2 separate regions of the Homo sapiens genome follow, and region 2 is linked to region 1. Evidence: fine-mapped expression QTL. Tissue or cell type: aorta. Region 1 holds a variant in brackets; the other region holds the start of a gene. All regions are shown on one strand. Distances are between the middles of the regions.

Evidence for each region. PIP is the estimated chance that this variant, and not a neighbour inherited with it, causes the effect.
Region 2: IL17RE starts here. The variant in region 1 is fine-mapped to the expression of IL17RE in aorta (GTEx, PIP 0.98).

What each region holds. Positions count from the first base shown.
Region 1 is chr3:9,928,980-9,937,082 of GRCh38, forward strand. IL17RC (interleukin 17 receptor C) reads left to right here. Exons shown (of 19, transcript NM_153460.4): 13 at 873-918; 14 at 1,049-1,170; 15 at 1,421-1,480; 16 at 1,916-1,964; 17 at 3,629-3,724; 18 at 3,841-3,879; 19 at 3,974-4,642. The coding sequence ends at 4,614. It overlaps CRELD1 (CRELD disulfide isomerase 1), which reads left to right and starts at 4,855. Exons shown (of 11, transcript NM_001077415.3): 1 at 4,855-4,941; 2 at 5,441-5,633; 3 at 5,856-5,938. The coding sequence starts at 5,460. RefSeq lists silencers at 3,827-3,886, 4,467-4,796 and an enhancer at 4,897-5,266. The variant C/G (reference allele first, on the strand shown) is at 4,723.
Region 2 is chr3:9,899,415-9,907,517 of GRCh38, forward strand. IL17RE (interleukin 17 receptor E) reads left to right here and starts at 3,434. Exons shown (of 16, transcript NM_153480.2): 1 at 3,434-3,650; 2 at 3,983-3,998; 3 at 4,618-4,737; 4 at 6,950-7,047; 5 at 7,292-7,451; 6 at 7,547-7,686. The coding sequence starts at 3,519. RefSeq lists an enhancer at 3,638-4,307.

The DNA.
Region 1 (8,103 bases):
GAATGGGTTGCTCTACAGTTTCAAAGGGTGATTATAAGAACATTCACTCATCCGGCCAGGCGCGGTGGCTCACGCCTGTAATCCCAGCACTTTGGGAGGCCGAGGCGGGCAGATCACGAGGTCAGGACATCAAGACCATCCTGGCTAACATGGTGAAACCCCATCTCTACTAAAAATACAAAAAATTAGCCGGTCGTGGTGGTGGGCACCTGTAGTCCCAGCTACTAGGAAGGCTGGGGCAGGAGAATGGCGTGAACCTGGGAGGCTGAGCTTGCAGTGAGCTGAGAGGGCGCCACTGCACTCCAGCCTGGGTGACAGAGTGAGACTGGGCGACAGAGTGAAACTCCGTCTCAAAAAAAAAAAAAATTCACTCATTCAAGATTTTTTGAGCAGCACAAGTCACTGTTTTAGGCACTTGTGATAGACCCTAACATCTCTACCCTCATAGAACTTATATTGTAATGGAGAAAGGCAGGCAACAGACATTGTAAATAAATCATATAGTATCTTAAAATTGCATACAAATACCATGGGAAAGGGATAAGGTGGGACTGGGGTTGCAATTTTTAGCAGGGTGGTCATGTGAGAAAGGAATCTCTTTGAGAAGGTTAGATGAGAGGGGAACCATGCTCCGTAAGACATAAAAACAGCTTTAGGGTCAGAAGACGCTTTATACAGATGATCTCACAAGGCTGGGGCAGAGAAAGATGTAGTGATTCCTAATCACCCAGCCTTGAATCCACATCTGCCTCAGGTCAGATTGAGTGCAGATTCCCAACCCAACAGGCCTTCTGTTGCCTGCCCCATTCTGGTCTTTCTGCCTTTGGCTTTTGCTTTTCTTAGTGGCCCTAACCATGGTCTCTTCCCAGCAGGTGAACAGCTCGGAGAAGCTGCAGCTGCAGGAGTGCTTGTGGGCTGGTGAGTTGGGCCTGGGGGCAGCTGGGGCAGGGCCACCTCCTAGGGGTGAAGGTCAGGGCATGGGAGGCAGGCAAGTGGCCAATCCCAGCAAGGATGGGTCTTGGTCAGAGTGGCCTCTCACCCCTTCCAGACTCCCTGGGGCCTCTCAAAGACGATGTGCTACTGTTGGAGACACGAGGCCCCCAGGACAACAGATCCCTCTGTGCCTTGGAACCCAGTGGCTGTACTTCACTACCCAGCAAAGCCTCCACGGTTAGGACTGGGCGACCCTCCTCCACAGATCTCTCCAAATGCATCTCACATCTGGCCTCAAATTTTCACTCCATCCACCCTGTGCCGGTCTCTGGGAACATGGGGGGTGACTCAGACCAGGGCCATATTCAGCGGCATCACCAAAGTCTCCCAGTCCCCTCTACCTCATTCTACCCAGCTGTAGCCTGGTAGGTGCTGCCCTAAGGGTGCTACCTCCAGGTAACAGTGCCCCCATCCTTTGGCTTGGCAGAGGGCAGCTCGCCTTGGAGAGTACTTACTACAAGACCTGCAGTCAGGCCAGTGTCTGCAGGTGAGCTGGTGGAAGAAGGGCCCCACCTCAATGCCTAGGGGCAACAGGCCTAAAACTAGCACTCACCTACTGTCTATTTAGGCTTATTTTATGTTCAGCCCTGGGAAAGTTAAGAGTAGAAGAAGCACAGTTCCTATCCCCAAGGAGCACACTGTTGGCTAGACACCCATAAACAGATAACCACACCTACAGGTGCTAAGTTTTGGGTTCCAGGGAGAGCTTCCGGGAAGAATTTCTTCCTATAAGCCAGATTTGGTATGGAAGAAGTCATACCCTAGTCAGTGGGCACAGCACAAAGGCAGAGCAGCTGCAGGAACCTTAGCCGGGAGATATGCATAGTTGATGCTGGGAATTTGGAGATCAGGCCACCAGAGCTTGGTGAATATTGGAACACCTGGCTGGTGCCCTGGATTTGGTTCTGTTTGTATCTTACAGCTATGGGACGATGACTTGGGAGCGCTATGGGCCTGCCCCATGGACAAATGTGAGTATTGTAAGAACTGCCTTTCCTTTCTGTACCAGGAGTGGGGATCTTGACAGGGACCACTCTTGGGCACAGCACATGCAATGGCCTTGTCCTTCCCTGAGATCAGATAAACAGAGGGTCATTCCTTCATTCACTCAAAAAATGATGAGAGCTTGCAGGGATCGCAGGAACACCAAAAATATAAATCCTTGCCCCCGCCCCACCCCTAGAAGACTAGCAAGACATGAGCCAGTCACTTACATTTAAAGTGGGAGCTACTGAAGCACCACCAAGTGTTCAGTGCTGTAAATGCATACAATGTGGACCTGACCTGGGTGGGGTGAGGGGTGAGGGGCTCAGGGGGAAGGTTCCAGCAAAACTCTGAAGACTGAGCTAGGGGAAGGGGGTAGAGATACAGGGTCTTGGACAGGCAGGTTTCTGTCATGAGATAAAGATGCAGGAGACATGTAGGGGATTTGGATCTTATGTTGAGAGCAGCAGGAGCTACGATCAAATTTTTATATATTTCACACACACACACACACATATATATATATATATATATATATATATATATACTTATTTTTTTATTTATTTTTGAGGCAGAGTCTCACTCTGTTGCCCAGGCTGGAGTGCAATGGCGCGATCTCGGCTAACTGCAACCTCTGCCTCCCGGGTTCAAGCAATTCTCTACCTCAGCCTCCCGGGTAGCTGGGATTAATAGGCGCCTGCCACCATGCCCTGCTAATTTTTGTATTTTTAGTAGAGATGGGGTTTCACCATCTTGGCCAGGCTGGTCTTGAACTCCTGACCTCGTGATCCGCCCGCGTCGGCCTCCCAAAGTGCTGGGATTATAGTCGTGAGTCACCGCACCTGGCCCAAATTTATATTTTTAAAAGATCTCTGAGGCTGTCATGAATCAATTCAAGGCAAATCAATTGGAGGTAAAAAAAAAAAAAAAAAGACAGGGCAGGGACACCAGGTAGTTGCAGACACCCAGGACAGCAAGATCAAGGGCCCAGCAACCCTAGCTTAGGGGAGAAAAACAGCTGACATTTTAGCACTTAAGATGCTCGGCATTGTGTTAAGTATGTATTAACACATTGTGTTAAGCTTTATATGTATTAATATATTTAGTCCTCACACCAACCCTATGACACAGGTACAACTTTACAGAGGAGAAAACTGAGGCAGAGGGTGACATTACTTATTCAAAGACCCCTAAACAGATGGAGCTATATTCATCCACTGGCTCTGACACTGTGCTGTGGACTCTGGGCAAATCATTTCTTCGTTTTTTGTTTTGTTTTGTTTTGTTTTGAGAGGAGTCTCACCCTGTCGCCCAGGCTGGAGTGCAATGGCGCGATCTCGGCTCACTGCAACCTCTGCCTCCCGAGTTCAAGCGATTCTCTTGCCTCAGCCTCCCGAGTAGCTGGGATTACAGGCGTGTGCCACCACGCCCGGCTAATTTTTTGTATTTTTAGTAGAGACGGGGTTTCACCGTGTTAGCCAGGATGGTCTTGATGTCCTGACCTCGTGATCTGCCCGCCTCGGCCTCCCGAAGTGCTGGGATTATATAAAGGCATGAGCCACCGCACCCGGCCCAATTCATTTCTGTTAAGTCTCAGTTTTTCTTCTCTGTGGAGGGTAAGTTTCTAACTCTTCTTCTCTGGGTCTCCCAGACATCCACAAGCGCTGGGCCCTCGTGTGGCTGGCCTGCCTACTCTTTGCCGCTGCGCTTTCCCTCATCCTCCTTCTCAAAAAGGATCACGCGAAAGGTGAGCGCTTCCCGGCTCCCCATTCCCCTGGGGGAGGACCAGAGTGGCTGTGGGAGTTCTCCGAGGGAAAGCGGCGGCCGAGCTCACTGGCTGCCTCCGCCCCTCTCCCCTAACAGGGTGGCTGAGGCTCTTGAAACAGGACGTCCGCTCGGGGGGTGAGTGGGAGCAAGCGCTGGGCGGAGGGCCGCCCCCGGGGAGCCAGGCCTGTGCCAGCTCACCTCTTCCCTCCCCATCTGTTTTCTCCGGCAGCGGCCGCCAGGGGCCGCGCGGCTCTGCTCCTCTACTCAGCCGATGACTCGGGTTTCGAGCGCCTGGTGGGCGCCCTGGCGTCGGCCCTGTGCCAGCTGCCGCTGCGCGTGGCCGTAGACCTGTGGAGCCGTCGTGAACTGAGCGCGCAGGGGCCCGTGGCTTGGTTTCACGCGCAGCGGCGCCAGACCCTGCAGGAGGGCGGCGTGGTGGTCTTGCTCTTCTCTCCCGGTGCGGTGGCGCTGTGCAGCGAGTGGCTACAGGATGGGGTGTCCGGGCCCGGGGCGCACGGCCCGCACGACGCCTTCCGCGCCTCGCTCAGCTGCGTGCTGCCCGACTTCTTGCAGGGCCGGGCGCCCGGCAGCTACGTGGGGGCCTGCTTCGACAGGCTGCTCCACCCGGACGCCGTACCCGCCCTTTTCCGCACCGTGCCCGTCTTCACACTGCCCTCCCAACTGCCAGACTTCCTGGGGGCCCTGCAGCAGCCTCGCGCCCCGCGTTCCGGGCGGCTCCAAGAGAGAGCGGAGCAAGTGTCCCGGGCCCTTCAGCCAGCCCTGGATAGCTACTTCCATCCCCCGGGGACTCCCGCGCCGGGACGCGGGGTGGGACCAGGCGCGGGACCTGGGGCGGGGGACGGGACTTAAATAAAGGCAGACGCTGTTTTTCTACCCATGTGGCCCACACGCGTCTCCGTTTCAGTGGCGGGGCTGGCAAACGTCATTCCCTAGCCCCGCGGCCCTTTAAAGCCCGGA[C/G]AGGTGCAGCTCGGTGCCGCCTCTGGTTGGCTGGCGTGGGGTGACGTAATGGCACATGGCCCGTCGCCATTGGCTGGGCGGCAAGCTCCGCCCCCTGGACTGCGGCGCGGGTGGGGGTTGTGCGTTTTACGCAGGCTGTGGCAGCGACGCGGTGAGGAGACGGCCCACGGCGCCCGCGGGCTGGGGCGGTCGCTTCTTCCTTCTCCGTGGCCTACGAGGGTCTGGATCCTTCTCTGCCGGCTCGTGGGCCGTGCCTTTGCCCTTCTGCGAGGCCCTGAATCTGATCCCTTCCCTTCATATCCGGATCCGGGCTCCTCCCTCCAAGCCCGGGGTTCCGGACACCTCCCCCAAGACAACCCCTCTGGCCTCCTCTCCTTCAGTACTTGGAATCTGATCTCTTCTCCCTAATTCTGCGGATCCGGCCCCTAATATTCTTTATCAGACCCTCAGACAAGAGGCTGACTTCTGCCCCCTTGTCAAGGAGCGAGGCCACTTTCCTCTCCACCCCATGCTAGCGAGGATAACTTATTTCTCTTCTGGAATTGCATCTTATGCGCCTTTCCCCACCCATCCCCACAGCCCCTGCAATACCCAGTTTGGCCTCTTTTGCTTGTAATAACGCAGATCCCAGCGCCACGGCACCTTAGAACAGACCTTTTTCTTTCTCGCGTGGGGCCTGACTCCTTCAGTGAAGCCTCTCCACGCCCTCTATCTGCAGGTCCCCAGCCTGGGTAAAGATGGCCCCATGGCCCCCGAAGGGCCTAGTCCCAGCTATGCTCTGGGGCCTCAGCCTCTTCCTCAACCTCCCAGGACCTATCTGGCTCCAGCCCTCTCCACCTCCCCAGTCTTCTCCCCCGCCTCAGCCCCATCCGTGTCATACCTGCCGGGGACTGGTTGACAGCTTTAACAAGGTGGGTGCACCGGCAGCCTCGTTAGAGGGGAACACAGCGATTTAGAGTGGGGAACTCTGGGATGCAAATCTGCGTGGATTTAAGTTTCATCTTGGTCTCTTACTAGTTGTATGGCCCTAGGCAGGTTGCCTTTCTGTGCCTCAGTTTCCTAGTCAGTAGAACAGTGAAGTGCTAGCATGTGCCAGGCACTGTACTTAGCTATTACTAATTTTCTGTTTCCAGGGCCTGGAGAGAACCATCCGGGACAACTTTGGAGGTGGAAACACTGCCTGGGAGGAAGAGAATTTGTCCAAATACAAAGACAGGTAAGGGGCTGCTGGGGGAAGGGGTGTATATTCCCCTCCCCGCCAAATCTCTGCTCTGCTGGTGTAGGGCTAGGAACTCTTGGGGAGCACTTATTCATTCAACAAATAGCACTGAACATCTATAGTATAGCAGTAAACAAGGCAAGCAAAATGCCCCCTTCCTGGAGCTCACATTCTAGTAGAGAAGACAAGCAGTGAATGAGTAAGTGAATAATATTATGTCAGATGAAGAACAAACAGTGAAGCACGGTAGACTGCAGGACGGTGGGAGGCAAGGTGTTCAAGGTTTGGCATTTGAACAGAGAGACAGGAAGTGAAGAAGCGAGCTATGTGACAGGGAGGGAATTGGGCAGAGGATGGGACTGAGCTTGGTGTATTTGAGAAGTGGCTGGAGTGGAGTGAGCCAAGGGGAGAGTGCTAGAAGGTGAAGGCAAAGGCTTAAGCCTCGAGGGCTACAGAAAAGAGTTTAGATTTTTTTTGGAGTGTAATGGGAAGCTCTTGGAAGGCTATGAGCAGAAAAAGTGATACTGTCTTCTCTACACCTTTAAAGATTACTCACACTGCTATGTAGCAAACGGATTGTAAGGGGCAAGGGCGGAGGAAGCAGGGAGACCAGTTTGGGAGGCAAGTGCATCATCTAGGTACAAAGGCAACACAAGCTAGTGTGGTATCTAGTGGAGGACATGATGAAGAGGTCACAGTCTGGGTATATTTTGCAGAGAGAACAATAGGACCTGGTGATAGATTCATTATGGGTATAGAGAAACAGTAGAATAAAAGATGCTTACTAGATTTTGGGCCTGAGCAACTGGGTGAGTAGTGCAGCTGTTTTCTAAGATGGTGAGATGCGAAACCGAGAAGGTTTAGGGGAGGGGTGGGATGTGGTGTTCTTTGAACGTATTGGGCTGAAATGTCCATTAGACATCCAGGTAGACTCCATACAAATCTGGAATTCAGAAAAGAGTAGGAATTGGAAACAGGAATTTGAGAGTTGTCATTATATAGTCAGTATGTAAAGAAAGCCATGGGAAGGATACAGAAAGCCATTATATAGTCAATATATGTAATACAGAAAGCCATTTATATAGTCAGTATGTAAAGAAAGGCATGGGAAGGATACAGAAAGGCGAGCCCTGAGCCCTCCAGCTTTTCAAAGTCAGATGGAAGAGGAGTCAGCAAAGGCTCAGAGTTAGACCTGGTTGTCGGTTCTTAACCTCTCAGAGCCACAGTTTCTTCACCTGTAAAATGGGGATATTAATACCTGGTTTGCCTATTTCATAGAAGTGTGGAAAAGGCTTAACTGGGATGCCCACTAGAAATAAAGGTTTTGTTATTATGTAACATTGGTCATTTTCTCTTTTCCTTCGCCGGGCCTGAGTTTCCTCATTCAGGAATGAGGGGATTGGCTAAGACAACCCCAGAGGCACTTCCAGCTTTGTAATGGCTCCTGCGTTGCTTGCTTTTTTAAATCACCTCCTATATGCCAGGCACTGTGCCAGACCCTTTAAATACAGGATATAAGACATCAAATATTTATATATGTGTGTATATATATGTGTGTGTGTATATATATATGTGTGTGTATATATATGTGCATATATGTCTGCGTATATATATGTGCGTATATATATGCGTATATATATATATATATGTATATATTTGTGGTAAAATACACATAAAAAATTTCCCATTAAAGACATTTAATAATATTTACAATGTTGTGTAACCATCACCACTATGTAGTTCCAGAACATTTTCATTACCCCCCCAAAAAATCCTATACCTATTACACAGCCACTCCCTATTCTCCCCTTCCCTCGGCTCTTGGCAATCACTAATTTGTGTTAGTCAAGCAGAAATTATGGATTTGCTGATTTCATTGGAATCATAAAATATGTGGCCTTTTGTGTCTGGCTAGTTTCACTTAGCATAATGTTTTCAAGGTTCACCCATACCGTAGCATATATCAATACTTATTCCTTTTTATGGCTGAATAATATTCTCATTTGGCTGTACCACATTTTGTTTAACCATGCATCAGTTGATGGACATCTGCATTGTTTCTACCTTTTGGCTGTTGTGAATAGTGCTGCTATGAACATTGTCTACAAGTTTTCGTTTGAACACCTGTTTTCCATTCTTTTGGGTCTATATCCAGTAGTGGA
Region 2 (8,103 bases), 30 kb before region 1:
CCTGGAATGCTGTTTTTCTTCCCTTTCTTCCCTCTTTCCCTCTCTTCTCTCCTCCCATCCTCCTTCCCTCCCTTCCTCTCTTCCTCCGTCCCTTCCTCCCTCCCTCCCTTCTTTCCTCCCTTCCTCCTTCCCTCCCTGCTGCCTTCTCTCCCTCCCTCCTTTCTTCCCTCCCTCCCTTCTTTCCTTCCTTCCTTTTTTTCCCTTCCTCTCTTCCTTCTTATCTCCATTTCTTTTCTGCTTCTCCTCCCATACCTTAACCAGAAGCAATTAACCAATATTTTCTCTGTGAGAGATCAGAAGATAAGGGTAAAGAAGAAGGATTGTTTTGGAATAGAACCAAGTTTCTCACTTCATGCCTCCAGCATTAGAAAACTCATTATTTGGGCCGGGCGCAGTGGCTCACGCCTGTAATCCCAGCACTTTGGGAGGCCGAGGTGGGCGGATCACAAGGTCAGCAGATTGAGACCATCCTGGCTAACACGGTGAAACCCCCTCTCTACTAAAAACGCAAAAAATTAGCCGGGTGAGGTGGCGGGTGCCTGTAGTCCCAGCTGCTCGGGAGGCTGAGGCAAGAGAATGGCGTGAACCTGGGAGGCGGAGCTTGCAGTGAGCCGAGATCGCACCACTGCACTCCAGCCTGGGCAACAGAGCAAGACTCCGTCTCAAAAAAAAAAAAAGAAAACTCATTATTGGCCAGACACAGTGGCTCACACCTGTAATCCTAGCACCTTGGGAAGCTGAGGCAGGATAACTGCTAGAGGCCAGGAGTTTGAGACCAGCTTGAGCACCATAGCCAGACCCTATATGTAGCCAGGCAAAATGGTGTGTGCCTGTGAAGGGAGGATTCACTTGAGTCCAGGAGGTTGAGGCTGCAGTAAGTGGTGATTGCGCCATTGTCCTCCAGCTTGGGTGATAGAGTGAGACTCTGTCTCAAAAAAAAAAAAAGAAAAGAAAGAAACCTCATATTTATATAGCTCTAAACCACTGTGAGTTAGGTAGAATTTGGGGGAAGGCTCTCTAACCTATTCTTAGTATGGCCAGACCACCCTTTCCTCCTTTCAGATCTTACTGTTTTGTTTGCAGAGATGGACTTCAAGGCCAAAAGGCATACTGTGTTAGGGTCTGTGTCAGGCAGCCCCTTTTGGGTTCCAAGAGCAGAGGAAGATGAGGCTGTGTGAGGGAAGACCATAGGATGATAGAGAATTGGTACCGGGCACAGTGGCTCATGCCCATAATCCTAGCACTTTGGAAGGTTGAAGCAGGTGGATCACTTGAGGCCAAGAGTTCAAGACCAGCCTGGCCAATGTGGCAAAACCCTGTCTCTACTAAAAATACAAAAATTAGCCAGGCATAGTGGTGCACAGCTGTAATCCCAGCTACTCAGGAGGCTAAGGCACAAGAATCACTTGAACCTAGGAGGCGGAGGTTGCAGTGAGCCAAGAACACACCACTGCACTCCAGCCTGGGCAACAGAGCAAGACTATCTCAAAAAAAAAAAAAAAAAAAAAAAGCCAGGTGCTGTGGTTCATGCCTGTAATCCCAGCACTTTGGGAGGCCAAGCTGGGCTCAGATCACCTTAGGTCAGGAGTCCAGGACCAGCCTGGCCAACATGGTGAAACCCGTCTCTACTAAAAATACAAAAATTAGTCTGGTGTGGTGGCGTGCACCTGTAATCCCAGCTACTCGGGAGGCTGAGGCGGGAGAATCGTTTGAACCTGGGAGGTGGAGATTGCAGTGACCTGAGATTGCACCATTTGCACTCCAGCTTGGGTGACACAGTGAGACTCTGTCTCAAAAAAAAAAAAAAAAAAGAGAGAGTTGAGTTGCGAGGGCCTAGCAAAAGGGGAGCTCCCTGAACTATAGACTTTGACCTTGTCCAAATCATTATCCCTCTGCTTCCTTATCTCTCTATGAAATGAAAACAATAATTAACACTTACCTGTCTCACAGGTAGGGTTAGGAGGATTAAATATAAAAGTGTTTTGTGAAGTGTGAAACAGATAAACTACATAGATGAAATGTATCATGACATTTATTCAATTACACAGCACATACTTCATAATATCTACTGCTAGGCTTGGAGAAACATAAAGAATAAGAGTTTTTATCTTTTCATGAACTCAAAAAGCTAGAGGGTACTTTTAGGATAATGGGTAGGATGCAGCCTTCAGACAATGAACCTAAAGACAGGAATAGAATTGGCCAAAAGCAGGCTGTGGTTAGGCCACTGAAAGGTGGTCTAGATTGAATTGCAGGGGGACAATAACAATCTCAAGATGCCTTGGCTGGGCGCCGTGGCTCACGCTTGTAATCCCAGCACTTTGGGAGGCCAAGGTAGGTGGATCACATAGTCAGGAGTTCGAGACCAGCCTGGCCAATATGGTGAAACCCTGTCTCTACTAAAATACAAAAATTAGCCAGGCATGGGGCAGGTGCCTGTACTCCCAGCTACTCAGGAGGCTGAGGCAAGAGAATCGGTTGAACCCAGCAGGTGGAGGTTGCAGTGAGCAGAGATTGTGCCACGGCACTCCAGCCTGGGTAATAGAGCAAGACTCAGTCTCAAAAAAAAAAAAAAAAAAAAAAAAAAAGATGCCTTGACCTGGTAGGTGTGCCCCAAACTTTCTTTCCAGTGTGTGTGTTACCAAGGTGAGGGCTGAAGCTGCTCAAATGCTCCATGAAGGGGAGGAAGCTGTGGGATGATGGGGAGGGTTCCCACAAAGATGGAGCCTCGTCAGCCTTTCTCCAGCACCGGAAACCACAGGAAACCAGGTCAGTGTGTGGGGCCCGCTCCCTCTGCTCCAGGGCTCAGCTGTGAGCTCTGGGGCTTCCTGAGCAGGGCGTACTGACTAGTGGGTCCTTGAAGCTAGAGGCCCCTTTGGTATGGAGCCCTTTGCCTAGAAGAGCTGGACCTGGCTCATGGGTAGAGAGAACTCGGCTATAGTCCTGAGAGTTAACCAGTTGGGAAGCCAGGGTACATATGGGCTTCATGTGCATCCTAGAGTGCTTTTTTTCTTCCCCACTCTAAATGGTGCCTCAGTCACCTCTGTATCTCCAGCACCCAGTGCTGAGTAGTGCTTAAGAGCTCGGCTAATTCTCTAAGTGAGGGGGTGAAGCGCATGTCTATGGGAGACACAAGTTCCAGAGTGTGCTGATGGGTGGATCAGATCTGCAGTGTGTTTCAGGAGTAGGAGGGGCTAAGAAATGGGTGCGTCCCCCAACCTGATGCTAGCCCCTTTCCTGTTACTTCTCACCCACAGCAGGAGCCCCTTGTCTTTCAGGTGGGGGGCAGTAGGGTTTTTGGGGGCACAAGCTTTCCTCAGTCCCTCCACTTGGAGGGGAAGGAATGTGGCCTGGCTGGCTGGTTGGGATCAAGGAGGAGCTTTCGGGCAGGGCGGGGCCAGGGCAGGCTGGGGCGAGGGCTCCTGCTGGTACTGTGTTCGCTGCTGCACAGCAAGGCCCTGCCACCCACCTTCAGGCCATGCAGCCATGTTCCGGGAGCCCTAATTGCACAGAAGCCCATGGGGAGCTCCAGACTGGCAGCCCTGCTCCTGCCTCTCCTCCTCATAGTCATCGACCTCTCTGACTCTGCTGGGATTGGCTTTCGCCACCTGCCCCACTGGAACACCCGCTGTCCTCTGGCCTCCCACACGGTAAGGTGCTGCTGCCAGGTAGGGACACCTGCCTGGCACAGCCATAAAGCTCCCCACTCCCCTGCCTGCCCTGTGCTACCTCCGCAGTCCCTGTGCTCTGGTGGCAGCTTTGATGTGTCCTCTACCTAGTCTCAAAGGGGTAGCCAAGGTCCTTTGTGCTGAGGGCCTGGACAGGGTGGAGCTGGGAAGATAAGAGCCAGAAGGTATGGGCTATTAGCTATGGGGCTCAGAATTTGCTGATTTGAAGCAAAGACCCCAGGAATGTGCCTTATGGGAGTCTCTCCTAATAATAGCTCTTTCCTTTCTTTTCCCTACTGGGCCCTGTGCCTCAGGATGACAGTTTCACTGGTGAGTCGCATTTCCTGCCCCATTGCTCCTCCCCACGCCCACTATTTTTGCAGATGCCTAGCAAGCCCTCCATTCTAATTTTCAGTTCCCAACCCGGGAAGTAGCACAATATCAAGGAAAAATTTGGAATCATGACAAGCCTGGGTTCACATTGCAGTTCTGCCAGACTCCCGTGTGGCCTCAGACTGTGCACCTAACCCCTCCAACTGACCCTCAGTTTCTGAGGGGTAGTAGCATAGTAGAAATGATTGTACACTAAAGGCAGTGTTGCTTCTGATCTGTAGAGAGGATTAGATGAGAAACATGAGTAAATCTCCAGGTTCTCCATATATGTTGGCTCCTCCCCTTAACTGATCCCTCACTTCTATCAGTAATACAACAATAATCCTTCCTATTTTATGGTATGTTCTACTTCACAAGACATTTTCCCATACACTACAATTTTGATTTTTATAACAGACCCGCTTTATGAATGAGGAATCTGATCCTTAGACAGGTCCTGTAACCCCCAAAGTCATACTTCCAGGATGTGACAGAGCTTGGCCTCAAATCCAGCTTGTTGGAGGTAGGAGGGACCTTCTTAGACCCTATCATTTGCTTTCCCTTCCATCTTTCCCAGGAAGTTCTGCCTATATCCCTTGCCGCACCTGGTGGGCCCTCTTCTCCACAAAGCCTTGGTGTGTGCGAGTCTGGCACTGTTCCCGCTGTTTGTGCCAGCATCTGCTGTCAGGTGGCTCAGGTATGAGAAACAGCCCCTTGGGCCATTCTCAGTGAAGAGAACATTTTGAGGGACCACCTAGGCTGAGCAAGTGGGACTTACTAGAACAGATATTTGTCTTGTTTTAACCTCAACTGGGACTTGGATTATCCTAAAATAGCACGCTATGACTGATATTCACAAATACAATTGTACAATTTTATGAAGGTTTTTTTTCAGCTGAGATTCTTGGAATTAAAAGCTATGGATTTATTGTTATTACCATCTATTTGTAGAGCAGGATCTTCTTTCTTACTCTATATTTTAATTGCTCAGCTCAGTGCCTGGTACATACTAAATGCCCTTACATTGCTTAAGAATTGGCAGTTTCTAGGCCAGGCGCGGTGGCTCACGCCTGTAATCCCAACACTTTGGGAGGCTGAAGCAGCCTGATCACCTGAGGTCAGGAATTCGAGACCAGTCTGGACAACATTGTGAAACCCCTGTCTCCACTAAAAATACAAAAAATTAGCAGGGCCTGGTGGCAGGCACCTGTAATCCCAGCTGCTCAGGAGGCTGAGGCAGGAAAATCACTTGAACCCAGGAGGTGGAGGTTGCAGTGAGCCGACATCATGCCATTGCACTCCAGCCTGGGCGACAAGAGCAAAACTCCATCTCCAAAAAAAGAATTGGCAGTTTCTGGGCCAGGTATGATGGTTCACACCTGTAATCCCAGCACTCTGGGAGGCCAAGGTGGGTGGATCGCTTGAGTCCTGGAGTTTGAGACCAGCCTGGCCAACATGGCCAAACCCCATCTCTACAAAAAAATACAAAAATTAGCTGGATGTGGTAGTGCACACCTGAAGTCCCAGCTACTTGGGAAGCTGAGGTGGGAGGATCACCTGAATTCAGGAGGTGGAGGTTGCAGTGAGTTAAGATAGCGCCACTGCACTCCAGCCTGGATGACAGTGTGAGACCCTGTCTCAAAAAAAAAAAAAAAAAAAAAAAAAGAATAGGCAGTGTTTAATTTTTCTAATTGTTTGTTGTTAGAAATAATGCTACAGGGCTGGGCACAGTGGCTTATGCCGGTAATCCCAGTACTTTGGGAGGCTGAGGCGGGCAGATCACCTGAGGTCAGGAGTTTGAGACCAGCCTGGCCAACATGGTGAAACCCCGTCTCTACTAAAAATACAAAAATTAGCCAGGTGTGATGGTGCATGCCTGTAATCCCAGCTACTCAGGAGGCTGAGGTGAGAGGATTGCTTAAGCCCAAGAGTTCAAGACTGCAGTGAGCAGTGATTGTGCCACTGCACTCCAGCCTCCATGACAGAGCAAAATCCTGTCAAGAAAGGAAGGAAGGAAGGAAGGAACGAAGGAAGGAAGGAACAAAGGAAGGAATGAAGGAAAGAAAGAAAAGAGAGAGAGGCAGGGACTGGCGTGGTGGCTCACGCCTGTAATCCCAGCACTTTGGGAGGCTGAGGTGGGCAGATCTTGAGATCAGGAGATCGAGACCATCCTGGCTAACATGGTGAAACCCCGTCTCTACTAAAAGTACAAAAAATTAGCTGGGCGTGGTGGCAGGCGTCTGTAGTCCCAGCTACTCTGGGGGCTGAGGCAGGAGAATCGCTTGAAGCCAGGAGGCGGAGATTGCAGTGAGCCAAGATCGCGCCGCTGCACTCCAGCCTGCGTGACAGAGCAAGGCTCCGTCTCCAAAAAATAAAAATTAAAGAATGCTAAAATGAATATCTTTGTATATATAGCTTTTTCTCTGCTTAAGAAATTAATCTTTTCTTGATTGCTTTATAATTTTCAAGATTAAAGAAGCTTGACATCCTTACCCTCCTTGATTTAAAACGACTTACTATCAGGCCGGCTCATGCCTGTAATCCCAGCACTTTGGGAGGCCGAGGCGGGCGGATCACCTGAGGTTGGGAGTTCGAGACCAGCCTGACCAACACGCAGAAACCCCGTCTCCACTAAAGATACAAAATTAGCCGGGCATGGTGGCACATGCCTGTAATCCCAGCTACTTGGGAGGCTGAGGCAGGAGAATCACTTGAACTTGGGAGGTGGAGGCTGCAGTGAGCCGAGATCGCGCCATTGCTCTCCAGCCTGGGCAACAAAGAGCAAAACTCCATATCAAAATAAATAAATAAATAAAATAAAATAAAATTACTTACTAACACTGGGCCACATCTCCAGGCAGGGGAGGGGGTAATGAGGGCTAGATAGTAAGTACGTCTCCCCTGCACAGGTCTTCAACGGGGCCTCTTCCACCTCCTGGTGCAGAAATCCAAAAAGTCTTCCACATTCAAGTTCTATAGGAGACACAAGATGCCAGCACCTGCTCAGGTACTCTCCCTGTCAGTTCCAGCCCTACCTGACGCCCCACAGACCTTTGCTTTCTGGCCTCTCATTTGGTTCTCCAGCCATGTGAGACAGAAAGTGTGGAGATGAAGTATTCTGTCTATTACACAGCTAGGGAGGCCAAAAGAGTTTGAGCAACTTGCCTGTAGTACCTCAGGTTCCAGAGGCAGAAACAGAAGCCAGGTTTCCTGATTTCTGGCCTGAGGCCAACCTTGTTCTCTGCCTTTAGAGGAAGCTGCTGCCTCGTCGTCACCTGTCTGAGAAGAGCCATCACATTTCCATCCCCTCCCCAGACATCTCCCACAAGGGACTTCGCTCTAAAAGGACCCAACCTTCGGATCCAGAGACATGGGAAAGTCTTCCCAGATTGGACTCACAAAGGCATGGAGGTGGGCACTGGGTACAACAGGAGATGGGTTCAGCTGAGTGGTGGTACCAGTGCTAAGGCCAAGAGACAAGGCCACTGAGTCCTTCCTCTCCCCAGGACCCGAGTTCTCCTTTGATTTGCTGCCTGAGGCCCGGGCTATTCGGGTGACCATATCTTCAGGCCCTGAGGTCAGCGTGCGTCTTTGTCACCAGTGGGCACTGGAGTGTGAAGAGCTGAGCAGTCCCTATGATGTCCAGGTATGGTGTGTCATCCCCCTGTAAAAAGCCCGATCACACAGTGCTAGCAAAAGAGGCCACCCATTGTACAAATGAGGAAACTGAGGCCCAGAGAGGGATGGTAACTGTCCAAGACCTCCTTACAAGCTGAAGGGTCTATCATTAAGACTTCTTTGGGCGTGGCATGGTGGCTCACACCTGTGGTCCCAGCACTTTGGGAGGCCAAAGCAGGAGGATTGCTTGAAGCCAGGAGTATAAAACCAGCTTGGGCAACATAGTGAAACCCTGCTGCTAAAAATAAATAAATAAATTAATTAATTAATTAATTAAATTAAATTTAAAGACTTCTTTGGACTAGACAGAAAAGGCAGACGGCCTTGTCACCGGGAAGAACAGGAAAGGCAGGCAGAGACCTGGAGCAGCCATGAATGACCATGA